2 separate regions of the Homo sapiens genome follow, and region 2 is linked to region 1. Evidence: fine-mapped expression QTL. A gene starts in region 1. The other region holds a variant in brackets. All regions are shown on one strand. Distances are between the middles of the regions.

Region 1 (9,886 bases):
CCTGCCTAATTTTTGTATTTTTTGTAGAGACAGACTTTTGCCACATTGCCCAAGCTGTTCTCCAACTCCTGAGGCTCAAACAATCTGCCCGCCTCGGCCTCCCAAAGTGCTGGGATTACAGGTGTGAGCCACCGTGCCCGGCCAACTCTAACTCTTGATATACAGGCCGAAATCCCTGATCTGAAACCTTCAGGCTAGATTTTAAAACTGTTTGGCCTTTAGAAAGGCAGCATGGCGCACGTGGTAGATTCCACACATCACCCTCTGCAGTGTCTGGGCAGCAGCCTGTTTTAAAAGTGTTACATCTGCAGCAAAACTTAGGAAAGTCACATTAAATGGGAGAAATAAAAGCCTTAAATAGTCTCCTGTTAGTATGAAAGAACTTTCAGCTGTCCGAGCTTTTTAGATTTTGGGATCTAAGGGATGGTGGACCTGCAGCTTTCAGGACTCAAGCGGACGCCCACCTGCTACTTATTCTGTGAAGCCCTCCCTGATCCACACTCTCCCTGCCAGCCCTCACCCACCAGCAGAACTTGTTTGTCCTCCCTCATCCTCTTCTCTCACCACTTCCCTTTCTGCCCTTATTGCAGCTCTGCTTTGTGCTTTATTTTAGCTGAGTCCTCACTCAATGGGGCACACCTGGGGTCAGGGACTATGCGTGGGCTGGACTGGCACAGTGATCAGGATCCAGTGCTGAGCAGAGCCAACGTTCCTGCCAGGCGTTCACTTATTTTTCTTTTTTTTTTTGAGACAGAGTCTCACACCGTCACCTGGGCTGGAGTGCAATGGTGTGATCTCAGCTCACTGCAACCTCTGTCTCCTGGGTTCACATGATTCTCCTGCCTCAGCCTCCCAAGTAGCTGGGATTACAGGGACCCACCACCACACCCAGCTAATTTTTTTTGTATTTTTACTAGAGACGGGGTTTCACTATGTTGGCCAGACTGGTCTCGAACTCCTAACCTCATGATCCGCTCACTTTGGCCTCCCAAAGTGCTGGGATTACAGCCGTGAGCCACCGCACCTGGTCTGCGTTCACTTACTTCTTCACTTCCTCGATGGCCTCCGGCAACCGGCGGCAGGTGGTAAGTAGCAGGGAGACTGCGAGTTCGGCGGTGGTATCTGTCAGGACATCTGGGGTGTAGCCAACTCGGATCCCACTACGAATCAGACATCTGGTGGTAACATCAGCCTCAACCATATTTACCAATGTCTACTGCTGGGACATTTCCATGGAGTTACTTTGCTCCCTCTTTGATCTGCCTGCCAGGAAGCTCAGAACTATAAATGAGCACTCAAAAACGGGCAGTCCTCATTCCTATTTAGATTATCTCCCACTTTGGAAGGATATGAAGATGGAAGATCAGGGTTCAGGGACTGAACAAGTAACTTAACCTTTCTGAATTTCCTCATCTGAAACAGAAAGAATAACACCTGCCTTTGCTACTTCAAGGTATTGTTGTGGGGATCAAAAAAGATAATGAATGTGAAAGGGTGCCACCTACACAGAAGTTACCCACTGTTTCTGACTGCTGGGGTTTATTGTAACTGACCTGTGCACATGTGGACAGATTCTATCATCAGCCACCTCACATTCTCCCTGAATGGCCGAGGGATATGCAGTAAAAACAAATCAACAGCTCTTCTTTCTCTCATAGCCACCCCTCTCTCTAGGCCCCCTCCAGATCCCAAGCTGCAGTTACCGCTTCTTGATTTCATCCAAAGCCAAGTGGTCGATGCCCACAGACATGGTGCTGATGACTTTGAGATTGGCCCCTGTTGTGCAGAAAGTGCATTGTTAGTATCTTTCCTCGAGGAACTCAAAGCCACAGCACTGGGGACTATCATGGGGACACCGCTTATTATTGTTTTCTTAGAATAAGAGGCTGACATCTCTGTTCTTCAGTTAAAACTCTGAATAATCCCCTTTGACAGCCTCAGACACTGCAGTTCAGGGAGGTTAAGTGGCCTGGCTCAGTCACAGGCAGAGCCGGGTTCACCTCAGGGCCTCTGCCACCAAGGCCCCGCTCTTACCCACTGGACTGTCCACCCAGCGAGGCCTCCGGTCTTCTTTAGCCACGCTGGGGCCTCCCCCATGGACACCTCTGAGAGTGCCAAGAAGGTGGCTGGGACGTGACCCTCTCTACCCTCTCCTGCAAGCAGGACACCACAAAGCTTCCAGGCCAAGGCCAGGATGTGGGGCGGCTCAGCACTGACTCACAAGGGTCCCTTCCCATCTGGCAGCCTCTGAGTCTGAACCTTTTCTCAAAACTGTCACAACAGCCTCACAGGGGGAGGTTTATTCTTCCATGGGCTGAGACCCGTGGCTGCGGTTGAGGAAAGACATCCTGCTGGGGCTTGGCACTGAGCTAGGTCCTCCCTCATACTACGCACACGCCCAGAAGGGGCAGGGTCTTGCTGGAGGTCACAGAGCAAGGTTGTGGCAGGGCTGGAGAACCCAGGGCCTTGGATGCACTTCCCCACACCCACAGTCTCCACACCGCGGTCTTTGCCCTCCTAGGGTCCCCCGCCAAGGGGTTCACAGCAGGAGGGAGGGGCAGTGCCTGTGCCAGAGCAAGCTATCTGCCCGCTCGGGCCTGGTATCGCAGGAAACGCCCTCAGAACCCAGACAGCACTGCAGAGCAGCCAGGAGCCAGCAGCACAGGCTGAGGGGCCCACAGGGCCAAGCCACCCTCAAGTCCCCTGCCCACCCAGTGTGCACCTGCAGCATCCAGGATCCTCTTGTCCACGTGGTCGGAGAGGAGGCAGAGCAGGCCGTGGGCCCCCGCCACACCTCGCTCTAGCTCCTTGGCAGGGATGGGCTCATCCGAGTCCCACTGCTCCACCTCACAGCTGCGGGGAAAGGGAGGCCCTCAGGAGAAGCAGGAGCCGCACACCTGTCCCCGCCCCTCCCAGCTGGGAATCCTGGCCTCTGATGGCCCTGGCCTCAGGCTGCCCGGGGCTGGCTGAGGGGAGGCAGGGTCAGGCAGGGGTGGTCTCAGAACTGTCCCGAGACAGCAGGTGACAGGTGAAGGGCTGAGGGGCCCCCCAGCAGAGCCTAAGCTGCAAGGGGGAAGGCATGGGGACAGCTCTCAGGTCAGCACAGAGAAGAGCTTTCCCACATTCACAGGGGCTGGGCGGCCAAGCAGGCGGCCAACTGCAGGGAAGGCCCGTGGGGGGCAGGGTGTGCCTCAGGTGGGGGGCCTGGATTCAATGGCCTGTTGCATCTCTTCCTGTCCGTGGAGTCCATGAAATAGAAAACTCTCATAGTTGGACTGGGCCAGGAAAGATAAGGTCAAGGCCACCCAACGCTTCCACGGCAGCTCACAGCAACCAGATATTTGTCCCAGTGATGCACGGTGCCTCCTGGCCCTTGCCATGGAATTCAGTACAGTCAGCACGTGTGGAGCCTCTATGTGGCAGGACACAGGATAGCTACTTGCACCTCCTGACTGAGCCCAGGGCACTGACCACCTTTCATCCACCTCCCCATGAGCAGGGTACAGCGTGAGCTACTGTTACCATGGGCGCGGTTGCTGCCTTCCACCTTCTCCTGCTCAGTACAAAGTGGGTCCTTGGCAAAGGTTTTGTTGCAGTGAACAAAATTTGAAAATCTCATATGCCCCTAGAACTGGCTGCTGAGGCTGGATTGCATCCTCTTCCTATCTAACATTGGAAACACAAACCTGATCAAATGCAGTGATCAGACAGCAGTCAGACACTTCTGAGTACAAGCCCCAGCTCCTCCACCTGGGAGCTGCATGGCTTTGGGAAGAAACTTAACCCTAAGTCCAGCCTCCAGTTTTTAATCTGTGCAATGGGAATTATAATACTGACTTCACAGTGCTACCAGGATTAAAAGTTTATGTATATGAAGCACCTGGCAAGGTTGGCCCACAAAAAGGGTTCCATTTAGCAAGGGTGGGCCAGGTGCAGTGGTTCATGCCTGTAATCCCAGCACTTTGGGAGGCTGAGGTGGGAGGATCCCTTCGTACAGGAGTTCAGGACCAGCCTGGGCAACACAGTGAGACCCTCGTCTTTGAAAAAAATAAAAAATTAGCCAGGCATGGTAGTGCATGCCTGTAGTAGTCCCAGCTACTTGGGAGGCTGAGGTGGAAGTATCTCTTGAGTCCAGGAGGTTGAGGCTGCAGTGAGGTATAATGGTGCCACTGCACTCCAGCCTGGATGAGAGTGAGACCCTGTCTTAAAAATTAAAGGGTCCTCAGGCCAGTCATGGTGACTAACACCTGTAATCCCAACACTTTGGGAGGCTGAGGCAAGAGGATTGCTTGAGCCCAGGAATTTGAGACCAGCCTGAGCAACAGAGTGAGACCCCCATCTCTACAAAAAAAAAATCAGAAAATTAGCCGGTAGTGATTGTTTGCGCCTGTAGTCCCAGCTACTCGGGAGGCTCAGGTGGGAGAACTGATTGGGCCCAAGAAGTCGAGGCTGCAGTAAGCCACGATCGATCGAGCCACTGCACTCCAGCCTGTGCAGCAGAGTGAGACTGTCTCAAAAAAAAAAAAAAAAAGATAAGTAAATATAAAGAAGAAGAGTCATCAAAGCCCCCTGCCAAACGTCCAAGGGCCTGGTCAGTGACCGCCATGTCCCTGACCCCACATGTCCTGTGGGAGCGTGGAGAATTAGCCTGGACCTTGCCTCAGGGGCAATCTCCCCTCTCCAAAGCCGGAACTGCAGGTCCCAGCGTCGTCTTAAGAGGAGAACTGGGCCCCAGAGAACTTTCTCCGAGACTCCCCAAAACTCCAAGCCTGCCCCAGCCGGCCACAAGGCCCAAACGCCCCGCCCGGCTCTCCGGTCCCTGGGACCGCCCTGCTCCCTCCTCCACGGCGCGCGAGGCTCTTACTCTGCCGCCCGGGCGAGCGCGACCCTACCCTCGGCGGGTATCCTGCGGGTGACGAACACCTTCATGAGTCGCACCGGTCTCATCCGCAGTGCAGCCGCCGACCCGGACCTGGCAGTACAGAAGCTGGCCCGGGAATGTAGCTGGGCCGGGGCGGGGCCAGGCTGGAGTGGGCGGGAGAGACGTCGCGCGCGGCGTGCGCAGGGGGTGTGGCTTCGCGAGAGGGAGCGCCGGGTTGCGGCTGAGCGGTGACTGTGCGTGCTCGGGGAGTGACAGTAACAGTGACCCTACACAGTGTCCTTGTGTGTGTGTGGGGGGGTGCGCCTCGTGCCACTGGGGAATCAGGGCCCCGGGGGAGAGGGGGCAGTATCCCGTCCAAGGCCTCATGGGAGCCCTGCTTTTTCTACACGCTCAGGGTCCTGTTTCCACAGGCTCAGGCCTTAAGAGACTGAAAGCCCCCACTTTTTCTGTCTCTTGGGTTGGCCCAGGGTAGAAACCCAGGTTCCAGGCTGTGAGGAAGTCCAGGACACACAGAGAGGTCACGTGTAGGTGTTCAGGCCAACAGCACAGCCAGGGGCCCGGCTCACAGCCACCGTCAATGACCAGAGGTATGAGTGAGGAAGCCTTCGGGTGACTCCAGGCCAACTCCCACCTGACTACAGCTAAAACTGCAAGAAAGAGCCTTTAGGAGAATCACTGGCTGAGCCCAGTCAACCCCGGAACCATAAGAGATGATAATGCACTGACTGCTGTTGCTCTAAGCCGTTCAATTTTGGAGTAATTCTTTATGCAGCAATAAATAAGTGATACGCTATGTGTGCGAAAGCCAGAAGCCATAAGAGTACAACTAATTCTCCATTGAAAAATTAACCGTACCATCCTGAATGCATCTGATCTTGGAAACTAAGCCTGGTTAGGGCTTGTATGGGAGACTGCCTGGAAATACCAGGTGCCTGGAAATACCAGGCTTATGTTTATCTTAAAAAAAAAAAATTAACAAAATCATAAGACAACAAACCGGGAAAAATACCATATATTTGCAACTCATTTTATAGACAAGGGGTTGATTTACTTATTGCACAAATAGTTCCTAAGACAAAGATGCCCAGCTTATCTGAATAAGCAAAGGATATCAATGGACAGTTTATAGAAAAGAAAATGGCCTTTAAATGTATGGCTGGGCGCGGTGGCTCATGCCTGTAATCCCAGCACTTTCGGAGGCCGAGGCAGGCGGATCACTTGAGGTCAGAAGTTTGAGACCAGCCTGGCCAACATGGTGAAACTCTGTCTGTACTGAATATACAAACATTAGGTGGGCATGGTGGCACATGCCTGTAATTCCAGCTACTCAGGAGGCTGAGGCAGGAGAATTGCTCATGAGTCCAGGAGATGGAGGTTGCAGTGAGCCGAGATCCCATCACTACACTCCAGCCTGGGTGACAGAGTGAGACTCCATCTAAAACAAAAAAAAACAAAACAAACAAAAAAAAAAAACAAAAGATGAAAAGTGCTCAACTTGACTCACAAAAGAACTGCATATTAAAATTACAGCAAGATACCAATGTAAAAAATAATACATTGGGGAACCAGGTGCTTTCATACGTTGCTGGTAGGAGTGTAAATCAGCAACTTCAATAAGAAAGTTTGGCAGTAGCTATCAAAGTTTAGACTGCACATCTTTTTTGACCCAGAAATTTTGCTTTTAGGAATTTACCTTACAGACGCGTTCACACATGTGCAAAATGCCATCTGCCAAAGGCTCTTCATTGTGGCATTGTTGGAATAGTAAAATATGGGAAACAACCTAAAGGTCCACTCATAGGGGACTGTTCATTACGTATGCTTCATTCCCACAGTGAAATACTCTGCATCAATCAAAAGAGTGAGGCAGCTCTGTGCGTACCAGTGTGGAATGATCTCCAAGATGTACTGTCCAGTGAGAAAACAGGGTGATGCAAAGTGCATATGTTACCATTTATAGGAGAAAGTATATGCCTATTCTTTTTTTTTTTTTTTTTTTTTTTTTTTTGAGACAGGATCTCAGTCTGTTATCTAGGCTGGAGGGCAATGGTGCAATCTTGGCTCACTGCAACCTCTACCTCCTGTGCTCCAATGATCCTCCCGCCTCAGCCTCCTGAGCAGCTGGGACCACAGGCATGTGCCACCACACCCAGCTAATGTTTTGTATTTTTTGTAGAGACAGGGTTTCATTATGTTGACCGGGCTTGTCTCGAACACCTGGGCTCAAAGCGATCCACTTCCAAAGTTCTGGGATTACAGGCGTGAGCCACGACACCTGGCCACCTATTTCTGTGTGTTAAATATCCCTGGAAAGATGTACAAGAAACATCTTTCTTGTTTCTTTGGGAACAGGCCAGGTGCAGTGGCTCATGGTTTGTAATTCCAGCACTTTGGGAGGCTGAGTCAGGAGCATTGCTTGAGCCCAGGAGTTTGAGACAAGCCTGGGCAACATAGCGAGACCCTGTCTCTACAAAAAAAAATTTTTTTTTAATTACCCAGGCGTAGTGGTGTACACCTGTAGTCCCAGTTACTTGGGAAACTGAAGTAGGAAGATTGCTTGAGCCTGGGAGGCTGGGGCTGCAGTGAACTGTGATTGTGCCACTGCACTCCAGCCTGGGCAACAGAGTGAGTGAGACCCTGTCTCTAACAAAAAAAAAAAAAAAAAAAGAAAAAGAAAAAAGAAGAAACTGGGGACAGTGGCTGCCTCTGGGGAGAAGACCTGGTGAACTGGGACAGAGTAAGAGAGACACAATTTTCACCCTTTGGGAATTTGCATCTTGTGCATTTATTATCTACCCTCAAAATAAAGAAAACATTCATTTAAAAATAGCACTTGGCCAGGCGCGGTGGCTCACGCCTGTAATCCCAGCACTTTGGGAGGCTGAGGCGGGTGGATCACCTGAGCTTAGGAGTTCGAGACCAGCCTGGCCAACATGGTAAAGCCCCGTCTCTACTAAAAATACAAAAAAATTAGCCAGGCTTGGTGGCAGGTGCCCATAATCCAAACTACTCAGGAGGCTGAGGCAGGAAATTGCTTGAACCCAGGGGGTGGAGGTTGCAGTGAGCCAAGATCACGCCACTTTACTCCAGCCTGGGCGACAGAGCGAGACTCTGTCTCAAAAGAAAACAAAAGACAAACAAACAAAAAAACTCCGTCTCAAAAATAAATAAATAAAATAAAATAAATAAAAATAGCATTTGGCCAGGTTTGGTGGCTGATTCCTGTAATCCCAGCACTTTGGGAGGCTAAAGCTGGAGGACTGCTTGAGGTCAGGAGTTCAAGACCAGCATGGGCAATATAGGGAGGCTCCCCCACCCTGTCTTTACAGAAAAATTTAAAAGTTAGCTGGTTGTGGTGGCTGAGTCCCGGAAGGCGGAGGCCGGAGTATCACTTCAGCCCAGGAGTTCAAGGTTACAGTAAGCTATGATTGCACCCCTGCACTCCAGCCTGGGCAACAGAGTAAGACTCTGTCTCAATAATAATAATAGTAATAGTCTCTAAAACACTTCTTTTCTTGCTGTCATTTTGAATCCTTGCACACTAAATATCAATTCCCCTGCCTTAGCTGTGGCCTTGCCCCTTCATCGCTCAGGTGTCTCCCAGGCTGCGCTTCTACGCTGATGACTCTGGAGTGAGCAGCTCCAGCCCCCATCACCCAGCTTCAGAGCCATAAGCCGCCTCTCTCCTGCCTCCTCCACCTGAGCATCCTCAGGTATCTGGAACTCAACACCTGCCAAACCCAATTCATCCACCTTCTCCCCAATACCTCACCTGACACCTGCGCTCCTCCCACATATCCATCAAAGGGACAGCCACCCCAAGCCAATACCTAGAAGTCACCCCTCACTCATGTATTTCACCCCTCCCACTCCACAGGCTTGTATTGTGGTTGAGAGCTTGGGTCTGGAGCCAGGGTGCTGGGTGTGAATCCAAGCTCGGCCTCTTGGTAATGGTGTGACTTAAGCAAATGACTTCATCTTTCTTGCCTGCAGCTTCCTGTCTGTAGACTGGGGAGAGCAACATATGCACCCCACAGATACTGAAACATGGAAACGTTAGTGAGTGACCATGTCCAGTGCTCAGGGCAGTGTCTGGAACTAACTAAGAGCTCCCGAAATGCCAGCTACTTATTATGATGACTGGTTTTACCCAATGAAGCCCAGGTCAGGCCTCCTCTGCTTAGCAGATCCCTCTTCCTGTGCCCTCAGCTGGCTCTGTTCCTACCACCCAGTAGCACTTATTGAGCCCCAGCTGTGTGCATTGCTTTGGGGGAGGGGACCCATTAACCTTCCGTGTCCCCTCCTGGCCCTGGTGGACAGGTTTCTCCCATGCCCAATGCCCTTGTTTGTACTTGTGTGTAGGAGGAGCTGGGCTCAGGATTAACAGAGAACACTCACTGGTTAACAGAGGCCGAAGGGCCTGGCCTGGGGACAGAAAAACACCTCTTTTTGTCAATGTTTGATGTGTTTCAGAAATGTTCCCTGGCCTGGGAACACAGATAATGGCCTGAGGGTAAGACACTTATTAATGTGTTACTTAAGAGAGGGAGGTAGCAGGGTGGAGCTGTGGCCGGGATCCAGGTGGCCCAGGGACTTGCTGTGTGATCTTCAGCGGGTGATGTCACCTCTCTGTGAATATCATACCAGTTCCCTCATTTGGGCCCTCATGGGGCAGAATGTATTCAGATCAAATCAGTGGAGAAGAGGTCACTCTGTTGTCCACTGGGCCTCCCAGGCCTAGGAGCAGGTAACTGAACAGCCCTGGAACAGAAGTGAGGCCCCCGGAACCGAGGGGCAGGCCTGGGCCCCTCCGCTTGTCCTAAGCTGGCTTCGGCTTCTGTGTCTCTGACCAACGGCCATCCCAGGGCACCAGGGTTGGTTTCCTTGAATGGATTTGTATTTGTGAAGTACCCATATATGTGTGTTGTGCTGTTGTAAGCACTACATATATCCTCTCAACAAGCCAGGAGGCAGGTGCTATTATTATCCCCATGTTACAGATGA
Region 2 (9,886 bases), 36 kb before region 1:
AAATCTCATCAAATTTGGGAAGATTGACCTGGCCACCACAGCCAGCTTGGTGACCTTACAGGTAAGACTACTTGGGTGGGGACCTGTTTTGGGCCCTTGGGTTTTGCTGAATAAACAGACTCTTTTTTTGAAGAGTCCTGAAGTCAACTCGTTTACTAGAGATTTGCCCCTTTTCCCTAAAAGTTGTGTCAAAACATAACTTTTAGTTAGCTGAGGATGCTGGCAAGCTGGATTTTGGTTAATTGATATGTCTCTAGCAGAATTCTGAAAATGGTAAGATTTGGAGGAAAGGCATCTTACAGACTTAGGAGCGAACGCTCTCAAAAGAGACTCACAAGACTGTCCCCAAAGTGGAAGTAATAAAAAATCACTGGGATATCAAATAGTACTTAAAGAACTCAGCATGAATTATATCGAATTGGAGACTTTAAAATATCTTGTGTTCAGTGAAATTGACAAAACCTGGTGTAGTGCTGACAGAGAATCTTGAATCTGGCTCACATTCGTTTTGGAAATGGAAAAAAGAACCCAAGGTATTGATTCTATGTTAGCTTTCAACTTTTTTTTTAATGTAAATTAATTTTAAATACTTTCCCCCTCTGTCAGTTTTAAGCGTGTGATTTTTCTTTTACTGTACGTAATATTTCTCAAATATGGATGTTGTCTAGTAGAGCCAGTTTTGTTAGTGTAGCAGGTGGGATGGAATGTAGCACTACACTATGCCTTTTGTCTAAGTATGAAGTGAACTTCTCATCTCCTAAAAGACCAGCTGTTTCTGAGTGAACTATTGCTCTTTGCATATGTTCTCATCATTTTCACCACTGAATAGTAGCTTTTAATTTCAAGATCCAGTTTTAGAGGTGCCTTTCATTTTATTAGTTATACATGTATTTCCTAAAAGCTTTGATTTATCTTGACATCCCAAACAGATTAGGTTACTCTGACAATTCGAAGGGTGAGGAGGGCAGAGAAGAATTTTATTGAGTGATGGAACAGCTCTCAGAGAAGAGGGCATGCAGGGGGTGGTCTCTTTCCCAGTGTGGCTGGTTCCGGGGCTTCTTAGGGACTCAGAATGGGGAGTGTGTGCTGATTGGTTTCTGATGCAAAAAGTTTAAAGGGAAGGCCGGGTGTGGTGGCTCACGCCTGTAATTACTGCAATTGGGGAGGCTGAGGCGGGCAGATTGCCTGAGCTCAGGAGTTCAAGACCAATCTGGCCAACATGGTGAAACCCTGTCTCTACTAAAAATACAAAAATTAACCCGGCATGGTGACGTGCGCCTGTAATCCCAGCTACTCAGGAGGCCGAGGCGGAAGAATCGCTTGAGCCTGGGAGGCAGAAGTTGCATTGAGCTGAGAGCATGCCACTGCACACTTGGAGTCTTGGAGACAGAGTGAGACCCTGTCTCAAAAAAAAAAAAAAAACGGTTAAAGCAAAGACACCACTCAAAGGTGGGCACGACAGTGTAGAAAACCAATTAGGAAAGGGGTAGATATATGTAAAATAGGTGAAGGGTGGGGATCAGTCAGAGGAAAGCATGCCAAATGGGAACACAGGTTCTCAATCTGGTCCGTGGATTTGACTTGTAGCTTGGCTTTCAAGCTTTTAAACTGTCTTCGGCTTGGAGGTGGGGTTTCACTGGGGATGTGCCCCTGTCTGCCTAGGCATTTGTCTGTCTCCTGCCTCTATCATAGTAGTCATTGGCAGACAGTTTTCCTTCCTTGAAGACAGGATACCATAAGTAAGCATTATGCCATAGCTTAATTGGCAGTTTTTTTCCTAGTGTTACATGAAATAATGCATTTTATAATCACAGACATCTTAGATTTAATGAAATTTGGTAAAATTAATAGAATTTTAGCTCAGGTGGCACACACCTGTAGTCCCAACTACTTGGGAGTCTGAGGCAGGAGGATCACTTGAGTTCAAACCAGCCCAGGCAACATAGTAAAATCCTGGCTGCCTATCCCCCATAAAGAGACTTTTGTACCCAACTAATTCCTTGTAATTGTAACCAATAAATTTTCCTAATTCGTTTTCCTGCTCTGGAAAATGTTTGTTACTGAAAAGAAGCCTATCGAGCGTGATATTTTTCCTTATGTAAATGGAAATTAACAAATAAAATGTTCATTTTACAAATTTTAAAGGATGATTAAGTGATAGGTCTACTTTTTGGAAATTATACTTGGTAATCTGTTACTTTGTATGGTAACAGGTTTACAAATGCCTTTATTCCTAATTTACTTTTTTTTTTGAGACAGGGTCTCACTCTGTCACCCAGGCTTGAGTGCAATGGCATAATCTGATCTCGGGTCACTGCAACCTCCGCCTCCTGGGTTCAAATGATTCTTGTGTCTCAGCCTCCTGAGTAGCTGGGACTACAGCTCGTGCCACCATGCCCGACTAATTTTTGTACTTTTTGGTAGAGACAGGGTTTCGCCATGTTGGCCAGGCTGGTCTTGAACTCCTGACCTCAGGTGATCCGACTGCCTTGGCCTCCCAAAGTGCGTGATTACAGGCATGAGAGCCACTGCACCTGGCTGATTGCCATTTTCTTAAGTTTAAAATGTTTAGGGTGAGTTGCTCCCCTTTTTTTCTATGCATGATATTGTTGACATGGTATAATTAATTTTTCAGTACATCTTAGTCAATTATAATTTAAAATCCACTCAACCATCTTCCTCTAAAAATACAAGGCTTTCACCTTTATAGTCCTTATGGTTTAGTCTTTTTTGCGAAGAGGATTTGAGGAAGGAAGACCAGGAAAACAAAATCCAGTGTTTGGGCATTTGGTTGTGGGAGGAGCCCAGAAATGCTACAAAAATCTAAACACATTTAAGTTACTTAGATTGTACTTATTTTGAATAGATGATCAAAAGCAACTCTGCAGGTCAAGTGAAGGTCACTTGCTGAGCATTATTGATTTGATAAATGATTGAGAAGTGAAGGCATATACTGCTTTGAAAGTAAACTAGGTGTAAGAAATGGATTAAGTCCATGTTCATCTTCTCTGTTGGAAAGGCACCATAATAATAGTGTCTCCAAAGCTTTGTCATAGTTTTCATCTTGATAAAAGTTTAGTTTTTTTTTTTCTTTCTACTTTGTTCTGTTTTGCTTTTGAGATAGGGTCTTGCTCTGTCACCTGGGCTGGAGTGTAGTGGGATGGTCATAACTCACTGCAGCCCCAAACTCCTGGGCTCAAGCAACCCTCCCCCACCCAGCCTCCCAAGTAGCTGGGACTACAGGCATGCACCACCACGCCCAGCTAATTTTTGTATTTTTTGTGGAGGTGGGGGTCTCCCTATGTTTTCCAGGCTGGTCTTAGACTCCTGGACTCAAGCATTTCTCCCACCTTGGCCTCCCAACATGTTGAGATTATAGGCGTGAGCCACCATGCCCAGCACCCAGCTAATTAAAAAAAAATTTTTTTGTAGAGAAAAGGTTTTGCTATGTTAACCAAGCAGGTCTCAAATGAGCCTCCCGCTTCAGCCTCCCAAAGTACTGGGATTACAGGTGTGAGCCCCGCATCTGGCCTAATTTTTTTGGGGGGGGAGTGTTCACTCTTATTGCCCAGGCTGGATCCAGCGCAATGGCGCGATCTTGGCTCACTGCAACCTCCACCTCCCGGGTTCAAGCGATTCTCCTGCCTCAGCCCCCGAGTAGCTGGGATTACAGGCATGCACCACCATGCCCGGCTAATTTTTTATTTTTGGCAGAGACAGGGTTTCTCCATGTTGGTCAGGCTAGTTTCGAACTTCCGACCTCAGTTGATCCACCCGCCTCGGCCTCCCAAAGTGCTGGGATTACAGGCGTGAGCCACTGTGCCTAGCTGGACTAATTTTTTTCATTAAGAAAGAAGTTTCTTGGCCAGGCCCAGCATTTTGGGAGGCTGAGGTAGGCAGATCACAAGGTCAGTAGCTTGAGACTAGCCTGGCTAATATGATGAAACCCAGTCTTTACTAAAAATTAAAAAAAATGGCCTGGCGCAGTGGCTCACGCCTGTAATCCCAGCACTTTGGGAGGCCGAGACGGACAGATCATGAGGTCAGGAGATCGAGACCATCCTGACTAACAAGGTGAAACCCCGTCTCTACTAAAAATACAAAAAATTAGCCAGGTGTGGTGGCGGGCGCCCGTAGTCCCAGCTACTTGGGAGGCTAAGGCAGGAGAATGGCATGAACCCGGGAGGCAGAGCTTGCAGTGAGCCGAGATCGCACCACTGCACTCCAGCCTGGGCAACAGAGCAAGACTCATTTCAAAAAAAAAAAAAAAAATTAGCTGGGCATGGTGGTGCACGCCTGTAATCCCAGCTATTCGGGAGGCTGAGGCAGGAGGATTGCTTGAACTGGAGGTTGCAGTGAGCTGAGATTGTGCCACTGCACTCCAGCCTGGGTAACAGAGTGAGACTCTGCCTGAAAAAAAAAAAAAAGTTTCTTGATCTGTCAGGGGTAAAAGACATGTTTAAAAGTTGTTTATGCTACACATCAGTTGGGATTGGAAAGAAAAGAAAACTTTTTTTTTTTTTTGAGATAGAGTTTTGCTCTTGTTGCCCAGACTGGAGTACAGTGGTGCGATCTTGGCTCACTGCAACCTCTGCCTCCCAGGTTCAAGCGATTCTTCTGCCTCAGCCTCCCGAGTAGCTGGGATTACAGGCATGTGTCACCACGCCCCACCAATTTTTTGTATTTTTAGTAGAGACGGCTTTTCTCCATGTTGGTCAGGCTGGTCTCAAACTCCTGACCTCAGGTGATCCACCTGCCTTGGCCTCCCAAAGTGCTGGGAGTACAGGCTGAGAAGCAGGGGCTGGCATGCCCATGCCCTGTTTTACATTTTTTGTAAATCTCTTTAATATGTAGTTTAATAGAAGACAGCTGGATTCCATTAAATGCTTCTGCATTCATTTTGCCGTGATACACTATTTTGATTAAAATATACCAAAAAACTCCAGCATCACACAAATATGTAGTTGGAAAGGGAGGATTATTTCAGTAGATTTTTCAGATAATTTTGGATATTCTTACTCTGATACTGTACCAAAACTCCACAAGTGGTATTTTCTTAAGTGATTAGTGCAATGTGGAATCTGAAATTATGTCAATGAACTTTTCATATTCTGTTGCATTAAAAT[A/G]CATTAGCTTATGTTTTGTACCTTGAATGAATTTTTACCCATACCTTGTTTTATAGCATTATTGTTACATGGCTACATGGTCATTTGGAAAATACTGATTTCAGAGTTATGCAGATCTTCCAAACGTTGACTCATTTATTATACAATGTAAAAAAATCACATTTCATTAATATCACCAATGATCTGTCAGAAGAATTTGAGCATGTGGGAAGCTGTCAAGCTCACAGTGACAGATACAAGTTTTCCAAAATACTAATTTTCACCTGAATTCTCAAACTTTTTTATTGGCAATAAGTAGTACTAAGTTATCTTATTTAAAATAACAGGCTTGTTTCATTCATTTTTTCATTCATTTTCAAGAAAATGGTAAATACTTCTAAATAACCATAGTTTGTCATTCGTTCTTTCAAGTAAAAATAGTGTCCCATGAGAAAAGCAATTAGTTGAGCCACCTCAAAAACTGCACAAGTGCTTTTTCTTGAGGCAACTTGTATTTCAGAATGCAGGAGGAAAACTTCAGGTGTACTTCCCATTTTATCACACATATTGAAAACAGGTACTCAAGAGTTGAGACTTAATAACAGATGTAGGGAAGGGGAGGCTGGGTCTCCATTGGAGTGAGCATTTGGTTAGTAGTAGCTGTGTTCAGCACAGATGTTTGGCATTCTGACCTGATTGTTCCTGCTGCCTAGCTTAATTTCTTCCCAGTTCAATCTTACGTATCCAGCCTTCCCATCAATTCCATGATCAAACTAATAGCCTTTCAGTAAATTACTTTTATGTTTAGGATCAATTTTTGTTGCTGCAACCAATGACTCTGGCTGATGTGCTGCTTAAACTTAAGAAAAAAACCCTAAAATACTTTTTAAGAAAGTAATCTCAAAAGTGATGATAGCCTTTAGTTCAAAAGTATGTGCCTCATGGTTAACCTTTCTGATGACTTGTAATTATTAACATCAGTTATGAGCAGTCACTATCCAATACCTACCTTTCTAGCCATACTATTTTCCAGCCAAATCGAATACATTGCTTTACCCACCTCAACCCCTTCTCCACCTTTACCTCTGTCTAGGGGTTTGTCCAAATCCAACCAAGACCTAGCTCTGTTGTCAACGCTACCATGAAGCTAGAAATAACCTTTGCCTTCTCCAAACCATTGAGAGGTTCTTTCACCTCTTATGTGGCACTTAGTGCCTTCCACTTTGTAATATCGTTATTCATGTATATCTTATTTCCACTAAATACCTGTGACAGTTAGTACTGTCCCATACAAATCTATGCTCCACAGCGCTTAACCTTGAACAAGTAAGCACTTTAAAACATTAGATGATGCTGGCATGGTGGCTCACACTTGTAATCTCAGCACTTTGGGAGGCCAAGGTAGGAGGAATACCTGAGCCCAGGAGTTCGAGACCAGCCAGAGCAACATAGTGAGACCCGTCTCTACAAAGAATAAAAAATTAGCTGGGCATGGTGACGTGCCTGTAGTACCAGTATTTGGGAGGCTGTGGTGGGAGAGTCACTTGAGCTAGGGAAGTGGAGGCTACAGTGAGCTGTGATTGCACCACCACACTCCAGCCTGGGTGGCAAAGCAAGACTCTGTCTCAAAAACAAAACAAAACAAAAAACATATTACATGAATGAACTTGTATACAAAAAATACACAAGTACCTTTATGGGCTGTTGAGGTCCCTTGAGCTGTATACTACCTAGCTCCAAGCTGCTGGGCCTCTTTTCCCCCTTAGTGGGTCAGCTGTCTCTTTCTGCAGCTATCAGCTTAACTTCATTTAAGCAGCCACTCCTTGCTCTCATTCTGGAGTTGCTGCTTCAGTTAGTTAGGGAACTAGAAAAACTTGAATTTTGTTTCGAACAAAAGACTGTGTGAGGGCTTAAGGGACTTTCCTATGAGAAAATCTTTCATCCATAGTCTTTGATCTTTATTTTGGATATTCTGAGACTTTTTCTTCTGGTTTTTGGCTGATTTTAGAGATAGTTGTGATTCTCAGAAAAGTGATTTTTGGGTAATACATTATACTTCATCCATATATAGCAAAAGTTTATTCAGCAAATAATTTACTGAGTATTTTATGTCAGGCACTTTGAGAGAGAGAAAATACAGTTCCTGCCCTCAATAAGCTGTTTTAGTAGAAAAAGCATTTGAGCTTGTACTAGGAACCTAAGTAGGGCACTAATACCTTTTCTTATTCAAACTGAGTTACAGAGCTCTAGGTCAATTCATCCCTAGGGATTTTGGCCTGGAAAACAAGGTGGCAATGTGGAGAGAATTGGAGAGTTAGGTGAGATGGTCAGGGCTTCCAGCTCGCCTTCCTCAGTCATGCTCATCTTTAGTCACTAGTGGAATTTTCCTGTTTTATAGAACTAATCTGTTCAGTTTCTGAGCCAACCCTGACAGAGCAGAACCAGAGATATTATGACATTAGTCATGCTGACAGGTCTGGTTTCTTGGGGTTAACCCAGGCATCATTGTGCCCACCTAGTTCCAGCCTTCCCCTACTCCCACTTTGCTGGTCAAATTAGAACAATGGATGGATGTTCCAGTACTCCGCTCTGTCTGACTTGGAGCCCTGTCAAAATTCCTAGCCTGGGCCAGGTGGGTGGGTGGCTCACGGCTGTAATCCCAGCACTTTGGGAGGCTGAGGCAGGTGGATTGATTGAGCCCAGGAGTTTGAAACCAGCCTGGGCAACATGGCAAAACCCCCTATCTACAAAAAATACAAAAATTAGCCAGGCATGGTGACACGCACCTGTAGTCCCAGCTACCCAGGAGGCTGAGGTGGGAGGATCACCTTGAGCCTGGGAGGTCAAGGCTGCAGTGAACCGTGATCAGGCCACTGTACTCCAGCCTGAGTGAGAGAGTGAGATCCTGCCTCAAAAAAAGAAAAAAAAAAAAATCCTAGCCTGCACTTCCGGAGCCTGTGGTAGGAGGATTGCTTGAGCGCTGGAGTTCAAAAGCAGCCTGGGCATATTGAGACCCCACCTGTATTTAAAAAAAAAAAATCCTAGCCTACTTGAGTGGGTCCTTGCTTTGTTCTGCTCTCTGACTTTTGTTTTCATCTATATCGTCTCTACAAGTGGAGGAAATGTTCTGTCTAGTTATTTTTCTGCTGATGAAATGGGAGAGTTCTCTGAACCCCCCTCGCAGGACGTGTGACAATGATGTGGCTCGTCTGTTTGGCTGCCACCACTGCTAAAACCCTTTACAGGAGGAGGAGCACAGAGACAGGCAGGGGCAGGAGCTGGGGCAAGCTCTTTTAGGCTCTGGCCCCACGGTGGCATCTAGGGGTGGGTGCCTGCAGCTCCCGAAGCCCCATTGGGCATGCTACAGTGCTCTTTTAGCTTGCCATATGCAGATGGGTTAAGTGTTAACCAGCTCAGTACCTTCTTGGTATTTGGGTTCTTGTCCAGCATCCAGGAAGAATTGGGTCACACATGGACTTGAAGGATGGTGTATTCGGGATTTTATTGGATGATGGAGGTGGCTCTCAGTGGGATGGATGGGGAGCTGGAAAGGGGATGGAGTGGGAAGATGATCTTCCCCTGGAGTTCGGCTGTCCTGTGGCCGATCTCTCTGACCATCCCCAGCTGAATGGCTCTTGACATTCAGATGCTCCTTCTCTTCTCTCCTTGGCCACGCTGCTCTTATGCTCCTCTGCACATTCTGTTTGTCTGCTCATCTGCCTGTGGAACCTGGGGTTTGGGGTTTATATGTGTACAGGATAGCATGGTGTGGCAGGCCAAAAGGCAACATTTGGGTGCAAAAACAGGGATGCCTGTTCCCATTTAGGGCCACAGGTTTCCAGGCTTGAGGGTGGGGCCTTAGCTGGGGTACTGCCTTCTTCTACCCAGCATTTCCCTGTCTCCTGTCCATATCACTAGGGTTTTTGTTTTTGCTGAGCCCACACAGAAGTAGGATCTGCTAGGGTTTTATCTAGATTGGGCTACTGAATGTTAAGGATTCCTTAGAATGTTAATTTGCTTTCTGCAGGTGACAACTGTGTGGATCCTGCCTGGCAGGCAAGCAGCAAATTACTTGATATGGTAGTAGATGATGTTTGAGTATGGGTGCGGTTTTTGTTATGAATGAAGTATATTATTGAGAAGCATGTGGGTATATCAGTGTATAAATTAAATAGTTTAAAATGTGCTGGCTTGTTCTCCGAAGACAGAAAGGAACTTTATTAGCCTAAGTAAAGCATTATTAGAAAAGTAAATCTATTGAGAAAAGTCATCTTTTGATTATTCATGTTAATGTAATGGACAGTAATGAGAGTGTATTTTCTTAATTATATTTAGTTTTGAAATTCCTAAATATTTGTTCCTGCAGATAACAAATACTGAACTTTACACTTGCTTTGGGTTAGACACAGTTATACATCAGTAGATTGCTTGCCACACTCTCCTCCAGCTATGTTGACTCATATTGTCACATTTTGGAGCCTTTTAAAGAGACCTGAAGCCTTTTTCCTTGGTTAGAAGGCTTCAGACAGGCAGCTTTGGGTAAAACTCTTAATTTACTCAGCCTGAGCTCTGTTAAGGCTTTTAGACTGGCCTTCTGACTTTGCTAGAATTACTTGAGAGTTCTGAGTAAGAATGATCTTGATTCATGATTCCCTTCCATCAGAGCAGATAATAGCAAATTTTATATCCCCCAAATGAACTGAATTTTTAAAATATTCCCTCTAGATCCAAAAAAGTTCTAAAGGTTTTGAGATAGCTGTATTATATAGGTTTTCCTGGGA

The links. PIP is the estimated chance that this variant, and not a neighbour inherited with it, causes the effect. A credible set is the group of variants that fine-mapping cannot tell apart.
Region 2: its variant is the best candidate, but not a certain one, in a credible set for the expression of GRHPR in esophagus mucosa (GTEx, PIP 0.56).

The regions. Positions count from the first base shown.
Region 1 is chr9:37,417,812-37,427,697 of GRCh38, reverse strand. It overlaps GRHPR (glyoxylate and hydroxypyruvate reductase), which reads right to left and starts at 5,002. Exons shown (of 9, transcript NM_012203.2): 1 at 4,865-5,002; 2 at 2,723-2,853; 3 at 1,704-1,776; 4 at 1,044-1,160. The coding sequence starts at 4,947. It overlaps LOC105376035 (a long non-coding RNA gene), which reads right to left. Exons shown (of 4, transcript XR_007061479.1): 4 at 8,190-9,886. RefSeq lists enhancers at 1,790-2,730, 4,405-5,030, 5,031-5,656 and a silencer at 5,041-5,190.
Region 2 is chr9:37,454,099-37,463,984 of GRCh38, reverse strand. All of the region lies in intron 1 of ZBTB5 (zinc finger and BTB domain containing 5), which reads left to right. Among named protein-coding and RNA genes, the nearest start is that of ZBTB5, 6.4 kb to the left of the region's middle. The variant A/G (reference allele first, on the strand shown) is at 5,127.